Regions from separate parts of the Homo sapiens genome. Here region 2 is linked to region 1. Evidence: fine-mapped expression QTL. A gene starts in region 1. The other region holds a variant in brackets. All regions are shown on one strand. Distances are between the middles of the regions. Region 1 holds the start of STIM2-AS1 (STIM2 antisense RNA 1). Region 2 has its middle 22 kb from the start of STIM2-AS1.

Region 1 (8,923 bases):
AAACATGTTTTTATATATGTTATTTCTAATAACATGCCAAATCAGTGAAATGGTATTACAGTTAAGATAAAACCTTCACATAGGCACTAAAGAATGTTACTTTAATTCATTCTTTAAAAGGATAGAGGCAAATATTTTCAGTTAAAATTTGTTCCCAAAAATTCTGAAACAATTCCGTAAGAAATAATGTAATGTTTCAATTATTCGGCATTTTTTTGTTTGTTTGTTTCCCTTTCATAAGCTATTTCTCAGGGACCCTATCTGGATGAGATCGGTCACTCCCTACCAGGATCAATTCATCAACTCTAAATCTGTTAGACAAAGAAGGAAAAAAAAAACTATTGTTTTGAGTTATTAAAGCACTGCTTTAGAATACAATCACCAAGCTCTCAGTCACCTATCCCTAACTTGCTTTAAATTTCAATCACTTTCAAAGTAAGTGCCCTAAATATATAAGCGCTGTATATGTAATTTAAAACCCTTACTATATAATGTTATGAATATTGGTTCTGTCTCACCAAAAACATTTGCACACTGAATTCTGAAAAGGTAATATTTAAAAAGGAAAAGAAAATATAAACCTGTATTCATTATGACAATGGGTCTGTTTATTTGGATGATTTGTATAGTTTTGAGCAATAACAGTTTATTTGAGCAAATAAACACAGGATAATTTAAAGGCAATTTACTCTTAAAGTACACTAAATCCCTAAAGTAAAACACTTGAGAGGCAAGCTGCAGTGAAAAAGAATGTTTTATACATTTTATTAGTCAAAGGCTAACTCTTAGGGAGCTTCTAAAGGTAAGTATTAAAAATGCCAATCTCGAGAAGAAAACAGAAAAGTGATTTTGGCTGTCATTTTGCAGAGCTATTGAGAATACTCACAGCTAAATCACAACTTTAATCAGGAGACAAAGAGACCAATTCTTCTCTCAGAATGCTTTCAAAAATTTTCAATTTTCAAAATTCACGTGACGTTTAGTTCTCTTATTACTGATGCTCTACTCCATCTCTATCCATTAACGCTGCCTACAATATGATACCACACCACAGTATTTTGTAAATTCAGTCTACGGTTTTACTTCCTGAAGTGTACACTAATGCTAATAAATTAGGTTCTAGGCTTTGCATAACATTTACAAATAGAACCATAAAAGAAAGCACTATTCATACACTCTTAAGAATGGGAAAGAGCCCTATAGAGGCCATATAGTTCAAAGAAATTTTCAATATTTTCTAACTTCATCATAGATTTTCAGTTTACCTTTACCAAGATATGGGTGCTATTGACTGTATTTACATAAACTTATTAAAATAACAATTTAATTTGTATATTGTGTAGTTTTATGATTTAAACTTTAAGTGGAAACGTTTAACTTGTTAAAAATCAATATTCTGACAAAAGGAAAGTAAAAGAACGTTAGAAATAATTCCAGGGTATTCTTCTAGCAAACTTATTTTAAAGCCCTATGGCACAAACTCATTTTGTGTGATACATCGGATTTTTTTCCAATAAGAATCACCTTTTTCCCCCATGCCTTAAATAAGTATAGAGAAATTTAAGTCTTAAAAGGGATTGTAAATGGCTTATTAAAATTCCATCTGACCAATTTTCTTGATGTGATCTACACAGTATAAAATATACTTATTAGCAGTCAATAAATACTAAATTTTCTGAATTGCTTGCCTTTTTACCAATTACTTTTTCACAGAGCATTAGCCAATTATGTATTAACCACATTTTTCTGCTCGAGAAACCTAGAACCACTTATACCTTCTAGAAGCCTAAATATTCCTGCTCCTTCCCTTCCTGCATGAGGCATTAAATCTTCAAATTATAGTCTTATTTATCAACTTTCCTAATAATCACTATTCTTCACTATACTGTTACTTGCCACATTTTTATTTGGAGAATAAATACTATTCAAGCATAAAGCTGTCTGACCTATCTTCTCACTCAAACTGTACTATGCTCCTAATACTGATTATTCTATAATCACTTTATCCCAGTTACCCAATTGGTAGGTTTGATGTATCAAGTTCCATTTAATAGGGCTTGATATGCTTCAGGGTAAAGTTAAACATGCTGACCATTATGTTCTATACTCTACATCCTCCAAAGCTTTTAAAGTTTACCAACATCCTTCTTCTCTCTAGAATAGTAAATATCCTATCATAGAAATCAGAGAAACTGCTTGGCTTTAAAGAATACAGTTCCTGAGCACTTGTCAGAGAAGCTGTTAGTAACTTCCAGACGCCCGCAGGACTATCATTTTGGTTAAATTAATCACGGGTCATCTTCTGCCACTTTAAACTTTTTAGTCTTACAATTATTGTAGGAAATCTACAGATCTACTTTAAAAATAAGTGAAATACTAAAAAAAAAAAAAAAAACCATTATTTTAGCTCCATTACTTTTCCCAAAGAAATCATTTCAGGGTCCTTATATAATAACTTTTACTTAAACCACAACTGATCAGTTGTACATAACACCGGAAGGCTTTAAAAAGGATACAATTCTGCACTTAACCTTACAAAACACGTTTCCAAGTTTTCAATTATGAGATCGTTCTATATATTAAAAAAAAGGTGCTAGTGCAGTCTATCAGAACTGTGCTGCCAGCTGCAAGCCCCGAGTATGCTGCACTTTGCAAATTTTAGGTATAATTTCTGGTTACCTGCTGAGGTTTCTACACCCTTTGTCACCCAGTGATGCTCCCACCACCAAACACTTTCCATCACCACTTAAAACGGCCTCCTTCCACCCCGCAAAAAATGCACTGTAAACTTAGGCATTTCTGCATACTAACACGGAACCACTAATATCACTAGGTATTATGGCTCTCAAAGAATCCCCTTTAGCAGGCTCCCCTGGGACGCTGTGCTCAAGCGGAGCTTTGAACCGGTGAGACTCGCTGCCAGCTGCCTTTGCAAAAGCAGCACCAGAGGTAGACTCAATACCGCAATGCTGCTGCTGACTTTTTCTAGCAGCCTCAAAAAAAAAAAAAAAAAAAAAATCAGCCCAGTCCCCTGCAGACCCTGCTGGCACTTCTGCAGCACGAAAGAGAAACCACCGCATTGCTCAGCTTGGAAGATCGGAGAGCCCGACTGAAGGGAGGGGAATCAGTGCCGTCGAGAGGCTCGGCGAGGGCGGGGTGTCGGGGTGAAAAGGAAAGACGTCCGGAGTGCAGGGGACCGCGACGAAGCAGCAGGCAGGGCTCCGCATCGCGCCCTGGCCGGAGCCGCGGAATAGCGGACGTCCGGCGGAGATGCTGACCTCTGCACGGGTTGGGGGTCCCATCGCTGCCGGCCGAGCCCCGCCCGCCGCCCCCCGGCCCCTCACCTGTCATGAGCGCCGGGCTATCGCCGGCCGCCGCGGCGGGAGAGGAGGCGGCAGTTGCGGCAGAGCCAGTCGCCCGCCGCCCGCGGAGGTGCCGGGGCACAAGCTCGCATCCGTCCGCCGCTCCGGCTACCAGCAGCCCGAGCACCAGCAACGCAGCCCAGCGCCGCCGCCGCAGCAGCCAGCCCCACGCTGGGCCAGGAGTCGAGGCGGGATGAAGGCGCCGAGGAGAAGCCGGGTGAAAGCGCAGCGGCGCCCCGGCCGCCTGCAGCTCGCCGGCTCCGCGAGGCGCCACCACCGCCGCCGGCGACTCCTCCGGCCGCCCCCGCCGCCTCAGACACGGGCTCCCGCCGGGCGCCAGCCTGGTCCCATCGGCACCGGCGGCCTCCGGAGCTCTGATCCCGGCTGCGTTCATTGGTTCCGGTTATTTAAAAAAAAAAAAAAAAAAGGTGGGGGGTAGAAAGGTACGGCGTCTTCAGGCGGTGCACGACACCCGCGCTGCTGCTGCGGCGAGACCGGGATCCGCTGCTCTGGCGCCGCCAAACACCAACCCCAGCTCCCGCGCCGCCGCCGCCGCGGCGCATCCCCCCGCCCCCTCCGGCCCGCGCTGGTCGTAGTACCACGCTCCGCCGGGACGCCTCCCTCCCCTCGCACATTCGCTCGCATACCAATCCCCCGCCTCCCTCAGGCTCTCCACGGCGCAGGCGCGGCGCTGCTGTACTGCGCGTGCGCGGCATCCCAGCCCCGCCCCGGAGGCGTTCCTAGACGGACGGTAGTACCGTGGGGCGGCTGATAACGCTTTAGCGAGCCGCGAAGATAGGAGGCGGGGAAGAAGGGGGACGTGTACCTCTCCCTCATTCACGGTACCACCGCGAGGGGGAGTGGGGGGCTACAAGGGGACGGAGAGAAGAGTCCAGACGTCCCACATCCTGAGGGCGAGTTTCAGCCTCGTAGAGGGCAGCGAAAGTAATTGCATGGATCAGGAAAATCTTGCAATCGGAAAACAGCAGCGTCCCCGTAATTTCAATATAGGTGGGGCTTACAAGTGGCTGGCTGTTTAGACGCGGTTAGCATAGCTTAGCGTTTTATTTACTTGCCAAACATTTCACAAAGCGCGTGCTATGTGTGAGTGTACCAGGCATTGCTCTAACCGTTTTACACATTTACATGCTATAACTCCAAAATTATCGTTACCCCCTTTTACGAATGAAGAGACTAAGACCTAGAAATGTGAAGTAAGTTGTCCCCAATATCCCACAGCTAATTCATGGGAAATGAGCGAGATTTAGCAGCCACTGAAAAGGCCTATTTAAGAGAATTTACTTTAGCCTCTGACTCTCCTAGGTACATTTACCTGAACTCATCACCTTCCCACCCCCATCCCATCGACTCTGTGCTGTATCCTGAACCGGCTGACAGAACAATGATGTAGACTTGACTTGTTTTCGCCAACCTGGAATGAAGCAAAGCTCTTGTGCACCCAAGATCTGCTCTCTGTTGTAAATCCTGTTCAGACCTGGTCTAATTGGTTTGAATAAATAAAGAACCGGAATCTTTCTCATCCAAACTAGTTGCCAGCATATTTTTAAGGCCACCTCCCTTCAAATTTAAAAGGAAGTGTTGAATGTACTGTCACTATAAATTAAAAGCCCTGGAAATTCACACGCAAGGAGGCATTCTTTCTCCCAGGGGCACAAAATTGTTTAAAATTTGCAGATAGGGTTATTAAACACGAAGATCCTTTTGCTATTGGGTTTTGTTGGTTTCATTCTGCTTATTGGTTTGTTTGCTTGCTTTCTCAAGCCAAGAAGATACTCAAATTACATTCTCCTAAAGTATTTCTTAGGTAGCCTGGCCAAGATAACCACAAATATCGTTTATTGTGGAAGGGCAGATGCACACTTTAGAAAAGAATCAAGGATGTCTTTGAGGCTAAGTCAATCTATCAACAGTTATTTCTCAGCAGACTTCTTGTGGGCATAGTGTTCAGGTGGCAATTCTTTATAGGGCAACCGGGAGATTATATTTCCCCTGCTGAAAGGCACAGCGATGAAGTCACACCAGAGTGCTGAGTGCCCACCAGAGAAGATAATTCTGCTAGGGGACCAGAACAATATAAATAACAAGCTTGTTCCTGCTCTCCAGGAGGCATTTCATTTATTAAATGTTTACTGAGTACCTAGTATGTGCCAGGCAGAGTACTGAGTGGTGAGGGTTAGGCAAGAGAGACACTTGAAAAAGGCAATTAAGTCAGCAGTCAGGGCTATGAGATAAACAGCACAGTCCCATGACTAAGGCATCTTACAATCTTTTTAAGGAGATAAAATGTACACCCATTAAACAATTAGAGGCTAATACAAAGTAGTAATCAGTTGCTAAATGGTGTAGTGCAAACTGTTACAGTAGTAACAGTATAAAACCACGAACAAATTAACAAATCACAGGGGCCAGGATTCTTTAAACAAAGATGATTTAGTATTTTTTTTTCTTCTTTTAAAGATAGGGAGGGTATTGACATTGAGAGTGTATTGGACTGGAGTTTTAAGTGTTTATTCCTCTCACTACTGGAACCGGAAAGGAACTAGGGATCCGGCAAGCACTCAAAAGACCAAGGCCAGGAAGGCCAGGGGCCAGGAATAAACCCTCCACCGCAGATCATCTTTGCCACAGATATAGAACTTTCCAGCTGTTAAATGAATAGCCGGAATGAACCTTGCTGAACAGAGAGAGGTACGTGTCACTGTGCATCACAGCATAAACCTAAGAACAGAAAGGAGAAAATCCATTCCTTGGCAAGAAAAGCCCAACCCTAGAATTATATATGCTTCTATTTGCAAGCCAAACATAAACACAAGACTCCAAATGAGGCAATCGCTTACCTTTCTCCCCAGGTTTCCTTTCCCACCTCCACGCTTTTGTTTTCCCTTTCCCTTCCCTTGTTCTCACCACCCCAAAGCTTTCTCTCCTTCCCTGTCGCCAAATCCCATTCAAAAGCTACCCTGAGGCCCTTTTCCTTGGCACTTACCCGACTCCTACAGCCAGCCTATACCTCTCAATGTCCAAACCTCATCATATGCCTTTTTTTTTTTTCAGAACGTCTTCACTGTCCCATTTTCACCAAATCATGACTTCAAACACCTGATGGGCAGCATTGAGCTCTAGAATCAGGCAAACCTGAAAGAAATAGCAATTCCACCACTTTTCAGCTGTGTTACGTGCAGACAGGTTAATCTGTCCTCAGTTTCCCCACTTTTAAATTGGGGATCCAACCATGCCCGCCCCACAAGGTTGTTAGCGGCGGCGGGAGAATAAACAGGGAAAGCCCTTGCGCGGAGCCCGGCACACAGGTGCGTTGCCATCCCTTGGGGAGAACTGGCTCTGGGCGTGCATTCTAAGCGTGTTCTTGGCTTAGGATAAACGCATCGCACTTTGCCCATGTTGTTTGATTGCATTTTCTTGCAAATCCCAAACTACTGGGCGCGCCCTGCACAGAGGCACAGCAGGATCCGTGCACCGGCTCCTCCCCATCCCAGAGGCAAGCCTGCCCTTCCCAAATGTCGGGCTCCCTATCTCCCTCTTCTCCCCTCGCTCCCGCACAGCCCACAGCGCGCCGCCAGCTCGGACTCGGAGAACCGGTTCCCGACTGGCGGGCGCGGCAGGGCGCCTGCGCCACCGCAGCCCCGCGCATGCCCGCTGCCTCCTGCCGGCTTCCCCCAGGTGCGCGAGTTCTCAAGCTGCTGGGTTCCGGGACGCCGCGCGCCGCTGCCCGCCCGGCTTCCGGCTCCCACTCTGTGGGCGGGGCGCCCGGCAGCCGCGAGATGGCGTCACCGCGTGGGCGGGCGCGGCGGGCTGTCAGTGGGGAGGGTGGTGGACGTGGGGCGGTAGTAGGGGTGGAGGTATAGAAGTGGGGAATTCCGGCGCCTCGCCCTCCCACTGATCTTCTCCTTCCCGTCTTTGACTTCCCTGCGTGGCCCTGGAATGTCGGGACAGACCCAGCAGGGTGGTCCAGCCTGGTTCGCTTGCTCTTGATGGTGAAGCCCCTCAGAGAGCTGCCTTCGGTGGAAACGCTGTTAGGTATCGAGTTTTCCCGCTGACTCTCGACAAACGCTAACAAGGGACTCGAGGTGCTGAGAACTTTGGAAACACCTCTAAAGTGATATAGACAATGTGATGGCTCCATTCGATCAATGAAGCCCTAGCATAAAAATGGGGTCCTCAAATTGTTTAATAAAGCACTAGGAATAGAAGTGACACCGTGGAAGTAACTCATTAGCAAGACCCTTCCTCCCTAAACCCAATAAAACATGAGATAGTCCTCAAGTGGTGTAGTGAAGGTGGAAAATTTTATTGCTGCTTTCTCTGGGAGCAGAGGAAGGAAGTCTTTTTAAGTGTCTTGCATCCAGGATAGGGAGTTAAAAACTCTAGATTTAACTAACATAGTTTTTTAAAAGCCGCTCAACAGAAGCGAGTTAACTTTGCCCGCTAAAGCCCGGTGCAATCAGAGGGCGTGTGGGGTGAGTCGTTTATATTATTAAATAGGATGTGTTTGCTCTATACTGCTTAATTTGAGGTGTTACATGAATATTATTGATCACATGATAACTGACAGATGCTGAAGCAGCAGGAATGTTGACATTTTCCACAAAAAGAGGACTAGAATTGTGATGGAGCTAAAGTAAAGATCATAACAATTGAAAATGGTGAGAAAATGATGGCTATTATCAAAAAGACAAATAAGTGTTGATGAGGATGTGGAGAAAAGGAAACCCTGGTATACTGTTAGTGGAAATGTAAATTAGTATACCCATTTTGGAAAGTAGTATGGAGGTTCCTAAAAAACTAGGAATAGAATTATCATATGATCCAGCAATCCCACTTCTGAGTATATATCCAAAGGAATGGAAATCAGTATGTCAATGAGATATCTGCACTCTCATGTTCATTTCAGCATTATTTACAATAGCCAAGATATGGAAGCAAACTAAATGTCCATCAACAGATGAATGGATAAGGAAAATAGGGTATATATACACACAGTGGAATACTATAGAGCCTTAAAAAAGAAGGAAATTCTTCATTCACTGCAACATGGGTGGAACTGGAGGACATTAGGCTAAGTGAAATAAGCCAGGCGTAGAAAAACAAACATTGTATGACCCCACATATGTGGAATCTAAAAAAAAGTTCATCTCATAGAAACAGTATAAAGGTGATTACCAGAGGCTGGTAAGTGTGAATGGGGCGAGGGATGGGGAAAGGGAAGATGCTGACCAAAGGGTATAAGGTTACTGTTAGACTGGAGGAATATGTTTGAGTGATCTATTGTACTTCACAATAACCACAGTTAATGTCTATTTCAAAATTGCTAAAAAGATAGATTTTTAACATTGTCACTACAAAAAAGGTTAAGTCAGTGAGATAATAGATATGTTAGCTCAGTTGAATTGTTCTACAATGTACATATAGCTCAAAACATTGTACTCCATAAATATACACAATATTTGTCAATTAAAAATTAATTTTAAAAACATTCATAATGTCTGTGAATTATGAGGCAGGAAGCTGCCAAGGGGTTCCCTACA
Region 2 (8,460 bases), 21 kb after region 1:
CAGTGGAAGAATTGTTGTTCCTGATTCTTCTCCTTCCCCTTTTCTTCTCCATGACAAGCCTGTGCTCAGAAATAACTTCTAGTCACCCAGATAGCTGTAGAAACGTATCATGCATGCTGCCTGAAAGACCTGTTCATTCTTAAAACCACAGATCATATATTACCTCCTCCAAGAGCCTTTTCCTAATTGCCCAGGAAGACTTAATTCTTCCTTTTTCTGTGAAAGAACAGAGAAAAATGAAAATGTTTCTACGATTTCATTCATCCATTCAACAATTTAGCAACTACTCTGTTACAAATGTGTGTCGAGATGATATTTCATTAAGAAAACATGGAAATAGGCCAGGCACTGTGGCTCACGCCTATAATCCTAATCCCAGCATTTGGGGAGGCTGAGGCAGGCAAATTGCTTGAGCCCAGGAGTTCAAGACCAGCCGGGGGCAACATGGTGAAACCCCATCTTTACAAAAAAATAAGAGAAAGAAAGGAAAGAAGAAAGAAAAAGAAAGAAAGAAAGAAAGAAAGAAAGAAAGAAAGAAAGAAAGAAAGAAAGAAAGAAAGAAAGGGAGGGAGGAAGGAAAAGGAAAGAAAGAGGGAGGGAGGGAGGGAGGGAAGGAAGGGAAGAAAGGGAAGGAAGGAGAAGGAAAGCCAGGTGTGGTGGTGCATGCCTATAGTCCCAGCTACCCTGTGGTGGGGGGATCACCTGTGCCCAGGAGTTGGAGGCTGCAGTGAACCGTGATCACACCACTGCACTCCAGCCTGGGTGACAGAGTGAGACCCTGTCTCAAAAAAAAAAAAAAAAAAAAAAGAAAAGAAAAGAAAAGAAAAAGGAAAACAAGGAAATGTAAAGGGAGAAACACACTTGAGGGATGATGTCAGGTGAGAACATGTTGAGCTTGAGTTGCCTGCAAACCCCCAAGATACAGCAGGTCTGGAGAGGAGATGCAGAATCCAGACTGAAGATGTAGTGGGGAACCATCAGCAAAAGCAGGCCTGGGCAGAACCAGGTATACAATTTGTGGGGCCTGATAAAAAATAAAAATTTGGTGGCCTTTGTTCAAAGAGCAGGAAAATTGCCATTAAAATGACTAAAGATACTAAGGTCCTAAAATATAAACTATTCCCTTTCCTCCAAGATCTCTCTTTCTCTCTCAACATGTCATGGTGAGTTTTTAATTCACTATTTAATATTGCTCTAAATAAAGATTTTAAATTACTGGCATGAATTTTACTGTTCATCTTTATATTGTGCAATGCCAGTTCTAGATGTAAATATTAGAACATTGAGCTCCTGTCAGAATCACTGACATCACACCATTCATATTTTATGGCTTGACCCCGGATGGTGTCTCAAGCTGGTCAGAAGAAATGAACACAAGCCAGACTCAGAGAAGCTAAAAGGAGAAAGAAAAGGTTCTCACAGGCACAGAGTGGCCCAAAGGATCCAAAAATACGCGTAGGGTAAGTTCAGACTCTCCCAGATGCTCTGGTTGCTGCCGTGGGACTTGGAAGTTCCATATGCCCTTGAGCCTGACAGCTGCCATGTTCCCCCTCTCACCAGCTCGCATGCACCACACCTCAGTGAGGGGCTGGGAAGTCAAGTCAGGCATCTCCACTTTCCAAGAGTCAGTTGTCCCAGCCCATAGCAGATGGGCAATCCCAAGGATATTGCAACCTCTGCATCAAGATGTGCTAGGGACTTGGATCACAGGGGGTAACAGGCTGACCCTCAACAAGTCATACACTTTTTTTTTTTTTTTTTTGAGACAGAGTCTCACTCTGTCACCCAGGCTGGAGTGCAGTGGGGTGATCTCAGCTCACTGCAACCTCTACCTCCCAGGTTCAAGCAATTCTCTTGCTCAGCCTCCCGAGTAGCTGGGACTACAGGCACACGCCACCATGCCTGGCTAATTTTTGTATTTTTGGTAGAGAATTTTGTATTTTTGGTTTCTCCATGTTGGCCAGGGTGGGCTCAAACTCCTGACCTCAGGTGATCCGCCCACCTTAGCCTCCAAAAGTGCTGGGATTACAGGCATGAGCCACTGTATCCAGCCTCATGCACTCAGGCTAGGGTGAGGACAGCCACTGTTGCCAGGCCTTGACTAGAGATGCAGGTGCAAGGACCCCAACCCTTCTTACACCTGCACTCAGCTTCCTGCCAGGGTGGAGGATAATGGCAGTCTTGGGGGGAAGGGTTAGAGGAGGAGAGTGGCAGGACCTGGGTCGGGGAAGGTTGAAGGAACAGGTGGCCAAGAACTCTTCTCAGGCTGAGAAGTGAGAAGAAGGGCAGTGAGAAGGACAGCGCTTGAGCTGAAATGCTAAGTCCCTGGCACATGCTCGTTATCCCATCGTATTTCACTCACAAAACATAAATTCAGAGATAACGTAAGAATTTCAAGATAGCAGCTGCAGAGCACTAACCCATGAGCATGGAGCCCTTCTGAATGTGGGGCTCAGGGCAACTGCACTGACTGCAAGCCCAGGAAGCTAGCCCTGGGTCTACAACATTTCCCACGAGGAGGAGAAAATAGAAGGGGACTAAGAAGGAACACAAGGAGCCTCAATATGATTGAGGTAGGTATGGGGGCCAGGGGAACAGCAGAAAAATGGGCAGAAACAAATAGGCAGAACCTATAAAGAACCAGGCCCAGAGGGCAAGAGAACCATAGACTCATCTACAGTACAGTCTTCTCCTCGGAGGTCTACAGTGATGTCTACTTTCCCTACAAGCATTAAACGAAAATTGAGCCAATAGTTAGAAATTAGAGGCTGGGTGCAGTGGCTCACACCTGTAATCCCAGGACTTTGGGAGGCCAAGGCAGGCAGATTGCCTGAGGTCAGGAGTTTGAGACCATCCTGGCCAACATGGTAAGACCTCGTCTCTACTAAAAATACAAAAATTGGCTGGGCATGATGGTGGGCACATGTAATCCCAGCTACTCAGGAGGCTGAGGCAGGAGAATCACTTGAACCCAGGAGGCGGAGGTTGCAGTGAGCTGAGGTCACACCACTGCACTCCAGCCTGGGCGACAGAGTATAACTCAGTCAAAAAGAAAGAAAGAAAGAGAGGAAGAGAGAAAGAGAAAGAAAGAAGAATTATAAACATTCTCATAAAAACCAAGTTTTCTTTAAAAAAAAAAATCAAAATATTTATCAATGCGGTGTCCACATTCCTCCATGACCAAAATCAACCAGAGACAGCAGCAGCTGCTACCTTAGAAGGGACACATGCCCACAGTTGGACAGGCTTCCTGTGACTCACCCTACGCAATACCAAACCCAGCTTCACCTGTGTAGACTGCAGCCAGCCTATGGGCATGTGAGTTTGGAGCCTCGGGTCTGCATTGCATGTGCAATGCCGCAGAAGGTCAACCAGGAGGAGACCTAAAAATAGGTCATTGGATCTGGCAAGGAGGAAAGCATTGGTGATCTTAATGAGAACAATCTGAATGGAGTTTTGGGATGGAAGCCAGATGGCAGTGGGCGGATAAGTGAATGGGAGGTGATGAAGTTGAGCCAGCAAGGGTAGAGACTAATTTTTTCAGCATTTTTTTTTTGACAGAAAGGGCGG[G/CG]GGGGTGATGGAAAAGGAGATTGAACCCACCCTGCTATCCCTATGCCTCCCTCATGCTCCTTCCCACACATCTTCTTTAACTAAATAAAGAAGGAAAGTAACATGAAATGAAGCAAGAGCTCTGTTTGAAATTTTACACATTAGAAAAAAATCGATTCAAGACCAGAAGTGGAAATTAACTAGGCTTTTACTATGTCCTATTATAAGTATCATACTCAGAGATCTCAATCATAAGTATTTATTACTGTTGGAATTGGTGGTTAGAAAAATAAAGTTAGGCTGCTTGAGACTAATTCATAGGTTTTAATTTTTTAAAGCCGCTTTAAAATTTTTATCCTATGACGACATCGTTTTTATGGCAAGTTTAAGGAAAAAAAAACCCTTTTTGTTTATATTGTGGAAAGAAAGCAGAGTTGCACAGTTTAGGAGCTATTCTGAAAACCCAGGAAACTATTTGACAGCCCTATGCATGTTTCAAAATAGCAGGTAAACTACTTAAATCCTAAGATGTTGTATAGAATAAGCAACATTCCTCCATTCGATTGTTGAATAAACGAATCTTAAAATAAATGATGACATCTGTTTCCACCTACTGCACTGTTGTTTGGATGTTTCGTGGGCTTGTTTGTTCATATAGAATGTAATTTGGAAGGCTGATATTTTATTATGAACATATTTAGGTTGGGGTTTAACAGGCTCTGCATTTTATGAAGGATCTAACTTGGTCAAATATTCCCTATCCCAAAAGTGGAACTTACCAGAATTATCAGGCCATAAGGCCTCTTGCTTGGTGCTACTGGAAATGCTCTTTGATTTGTTAACAGATTCTGAAAGGCGATTTAGATCAGGTTTTGGAATCCTTGCGAAGTAATCAGATTTTAACTTTGACTTCCTCCAGTCTGACAAAGTACAGGAAGTCTGCTCCCTCCCGCTGTGGCCTACTCTCACCAACTGTTTTGAATGTGTTCTGCAGACTTCACCAGGGGTTCAGGAGATATGGAGCTTTTAACATATATACTGTGTTGGTGTGATTTTATGACTTCTAGTGGATGTCAAGTATGTAAGAACACAAGCGATGCTTTTTTTTTAAAGGGAGAAAATTGTATAATTCTTTTATTCCCGTTTTTCATGAAGTCATATATGTCAGCCAGCCTTTGCTTAATAAACTGCTAGATGTCTTTAATAAAAAACTTTGAGCTGGTGTCTACAACTTTAAGTACCAACCTTTGACACTAATAAATACTTTCAGCCTCTACAGTAAGCTGATACTGGTCACACAGACTGTGTCTCTCTGAAATCCAAACTTGCAAGTCAGTGAGCCAGCTTCGTATACATACGTCCAACAACTGGCCCATTCTACACTCAGATGCAGGTGGTATCGGAAGTTGCATGGGTGAGTAGGCTGAGGGTATGAGGAGGGAAGGACTTGGTGGCAAACAGAGGAAATGGATGGGAAAGGGGCCAAGAGAATGGGAAAATGAGCCATTCTCATTGCCTTGTTTCTTATAATTCAACCACTCTTTAGCCACAAGAAATATAGATTCTGTCCCCACTTAATCATTGAAACTGTTATCTGCAAACCCAGTGGATTTTTCTTCAACCTTTATTCTCCTTAACACCTTGCAGAATGTGACAGTCATTTTTTAGGGGAAAAAATGTCCAATTTTTTTATAAAATCTCCTTCTCTCTGGGCTTATGTAGCACCAACTGTCTTGGTCCTCCTGCTATCAATACTTACCATCCTCCTTTCTAACCAGCCTTTCTCTTACCTCCAACATTTCATCCTTCCCAGACTCACCCGCACCCCACATGCATCCTTGTAGGTCTGGCTTCTCTACTCTTGCCCTTAGTGATCTCATCCGGTGTCCTGTTTTTGCTTGTCTCCTCCATACAGATGATCGCTAAATCATGTTATGTAGCCTCAGCTTCTTTGCCCAGTTATAGATCAATATCAATGACTAGTGAAAAGAGCTAAGAGATTGGAATTTAAATCAAATGATATCACATATGTGAAAACTCCAAGTGCTATACAGATGCCAAATATTATTCTCTGCCTTCCACAGCTTTCAAGCCACTTTCATTCTTCCTGATATCTTCCTGACATCTCCTAGGGGCCCTACCTTCCAGTTAAACAGGGGGAAAATTGTGGTGCCATCTTTGATTTTCCTCTCTCATTCATCTCATCCAACCAGTGCCTCTAAATACTACATATTTGCTAGTCTATTGCATCTTTCTTTTTTTTCCAACTCATCACACTCACCACTAAGCAAAATGGTCTTCTCCATGCCCATCTCCCATTATGGCACTTGACTCAGGCCTCAGTGAATCTCTATTGCTTACCAAAACCAGTACAAACTTTTCCACCCAGTATTGGAGCTTCTCCATTATATAGACCTTTTATGCCTCTGTGGTTTAGTGACTTGCCACTCTCCTATTCATTCACTATGCCCTAACCAAATAGGTTGATTTTCACTCTCCACAACCCCTCCAAACATTCCCATTCTGGACACTTGCTTGGGGCAGTCTCTCCAATGGAATGCCTTTCTGTCTTCTCCCGCTATCCTGTCTTCAAGGCAATATGGGTCTGGGTCCAGGCTCGAAAATAGACTCCCACTCTAGATGTTTCAAACACAGGGAATTTGATACAGTGAATTGATTTCCAAGGTGCTGGGAGGTTTGGAAGAGTAAATGGAAGAAACAGAGGGGTTAAAGGAGCAAGAAAAGAAGCCATAGCTAAAATTCCTTGGGCTGAAGTCCCTACATTCACACTTGCTGCTGTGAGGCTTGCCAGTTCTGGAGAGACAAAGGGACATGGCTGGAACTGCTGGAAAGCTGCTGCCTCTGCCTGGGCTGCTGCAATCTGGAATTCTCCTCCTCCCTGCAACCCCTGCTGCTGCTCCAGCAACTTCCAGCAGTCTTCACTCTCAAAACTAGAGCAGGACTCTTCTCTCTGCTGCTGCCTTTGGATTTTCCTCTGGACCCAGCTGGCAAGGGAGCCTAGGAAATGTAGTTTTCAGACACCTGTTCGTACCTCTACAGAGCATAATATAGAAAGGCAGCTGGGGGTGCAGGACAACAGCTCAAAAGCTGGACAAGGGCCCAGTACAAACACTACATATTCCCTGAAGTGTTTCTTGATTCCCACCTCCCTCTGCCCCTCCAACACCATCAGCTTCAAAAGACTTCTCCCTCTTCTCAATTTTGTCCATGGGTCTCTTTGAATTCATTTAAAATACATTTGTTGAGGAACCCCTCTGTGCCAGGCACTGTGCTAGAAGCTGGAAATACAACTATGAGTAAGACAGACTTGGCTGCCATTCTTCTAGAACTTCATGGAGTTTAAAGTCTAGTTGAGGAGACGTACAATTAAATAAGCAATTACAATGTAGCTTGATGAGCATTAAGACAGGGGAGGTCGAAGTGTCAGGGCACATAAGAATGACGTTTAAACCAAACTGGAAGGGTCAGGAAGTGCTTCCAGAGGAAGCCAAAGTCTGAAGCCAAAGAGGCAAGGGCCAGGGAGAAATGCTCTTGATAGAAACAAAATCATGTCCAAAGGCCCAGAAGTGATAGAGAGAGAGAGAGAGAGAGAGAGAGAGAGAGCACTTCACATGCAAGAACCAGAATGCATGTGGTATAGGCAGCATACGTATTTTGAAGGGGAGAACAGGAAAGAAGAGAATGGGGAGAGATAATGGCTAGGGAAGAAAATAGGCATCACAGAACACAAGCCTGGTGAGCCACATCAAAGTTTGAACTTTACCCTAAGGACAATGGGAAGCCATTGAAGGTTTATAGTAGAAACGTGACATGATCAGGTTTTCATTTAGGAAGTTCATGTTGACTTCAGGGCAAAGAATAGGGTGAAGGGAGGCAGGGCAACTATTTAGGAAGGTGCCAGAGAAATCAAGAATAGTGGCTGAGACTAGGTTATGGCAATGGAAAGAAATGGTAGATTCGAGAGGTGTTCAGGAAGGAGAGTGGATGTGTGCACCTGGGAAACGGAGTCAAGGATGGCTCCTACGATTCTGCCTTGCCTTTATGAACTGCATGAACAGAAGTGACACTGCTGAGATCGAAAATGTAGAAGGGTGAGCTTTTGGAAGTGTACTCATTTCTTATTGCTGCTGTAACAAATTATCACAAACTTAGTGACTTAACAGAAATTTATTATCTTATAGGTCTGGATGTCAGCTGTCCATGTGGGTCTCACTGGGCTAAAATCAAGGTGTTGGAATGGCTGCTTCCTTCTGCAGGCTCTAGGGGAGAATCCATTTCCTTGTGTTCTCCGGCTTCTACAGGCTACCTGCATTCCTTGGCTCATGGCCCCTTCCTCCATCTTCAAAGCCAGTAGAGCTGCATCTTCTAAACTCTCTCTATGATTCTGACACTCCTGCCTCCCTCTTATAAGGACACAGGTGATTACATTGGATTCACTCACATAATCCAGGATTATCTTCCCATCAAGATCCTTAACTTATTCACATTTGCCAAGTAAGTCCCTTTTGCCACATAAGACAACATATTCACAAATTTCAGTGATTAAGAGGTGGACATCTTTGGAGGCCATTATTCTGCCTACCACAGGGAGTAAGGGCTAAGGGCTCAAATATCAGTTCAGTTCTACACACATAGAGCTTTGTGAATATGGCACATCCAGGTGGTGATGCTGAGTAGAAAGCATGATAGCTGGGTCTGAACCTTGGGAGCGGGATTTGCTTGACCATCTAAATGTGAGCATCATCAAAGTATAGATGGAATTGAAAACATGAACGTAGATGGGGTCTCCCTGGCAAAATAGTTAAGAGTGAAAAGAAAAGAGGAAAAACCTTGAGAAACATCATCCCTCAATGGATGAGGAGAGAATCCTATGAAGAAGAATGAAAACGA

The links. PIP is the estimated chance that this variant, and not a neighbour inherited with it, causes the effect.
Region 2: its variant is fine-mapped to the expression of STIM2-AS1 in whole blood (TOPMed, PIP above 0.99).

Annotation. Positions count from the first base shown.
Region 1 is chr4:26,855,791-26,864,713 of GRCh38, reverse strand. It overlaps STIM2-AS1 (STIM2 antisense RNA 1), which reads left to right and starts at 4,115. Exons shown (of 2, transcript NR_134674.1): 1 at 4,115-4,204; 2 at 4,686-5,090. STIM2 (stromal interaction molecule 2) reads right to left here and starts at 3,873. Exons shown (of 12, transcript NM_020860.4): 1 at 3,345-3,873. The coding sequence starts at 3,495. It also overlaps a transcript of TBC1D19 not described here. RefSeq lists silencers at 3,177-3,746, 3,757-4,126, 6,917-6,966, 6,987-7,276 and enhancers at 4,217-4,316, 7,397-7,496.
Region 2 is chr4:26,834,688-26,843,147 of GRCh38, reverse strand. It overlaps a transcript of TBC1D19 not described here. Among named protein-coding and RNA genes, the nearest start is that of STIM2-AS1, 22 kb to the left of the region's middle. The variant G/CG (reference allele first, on the strand shown) is at 3,571.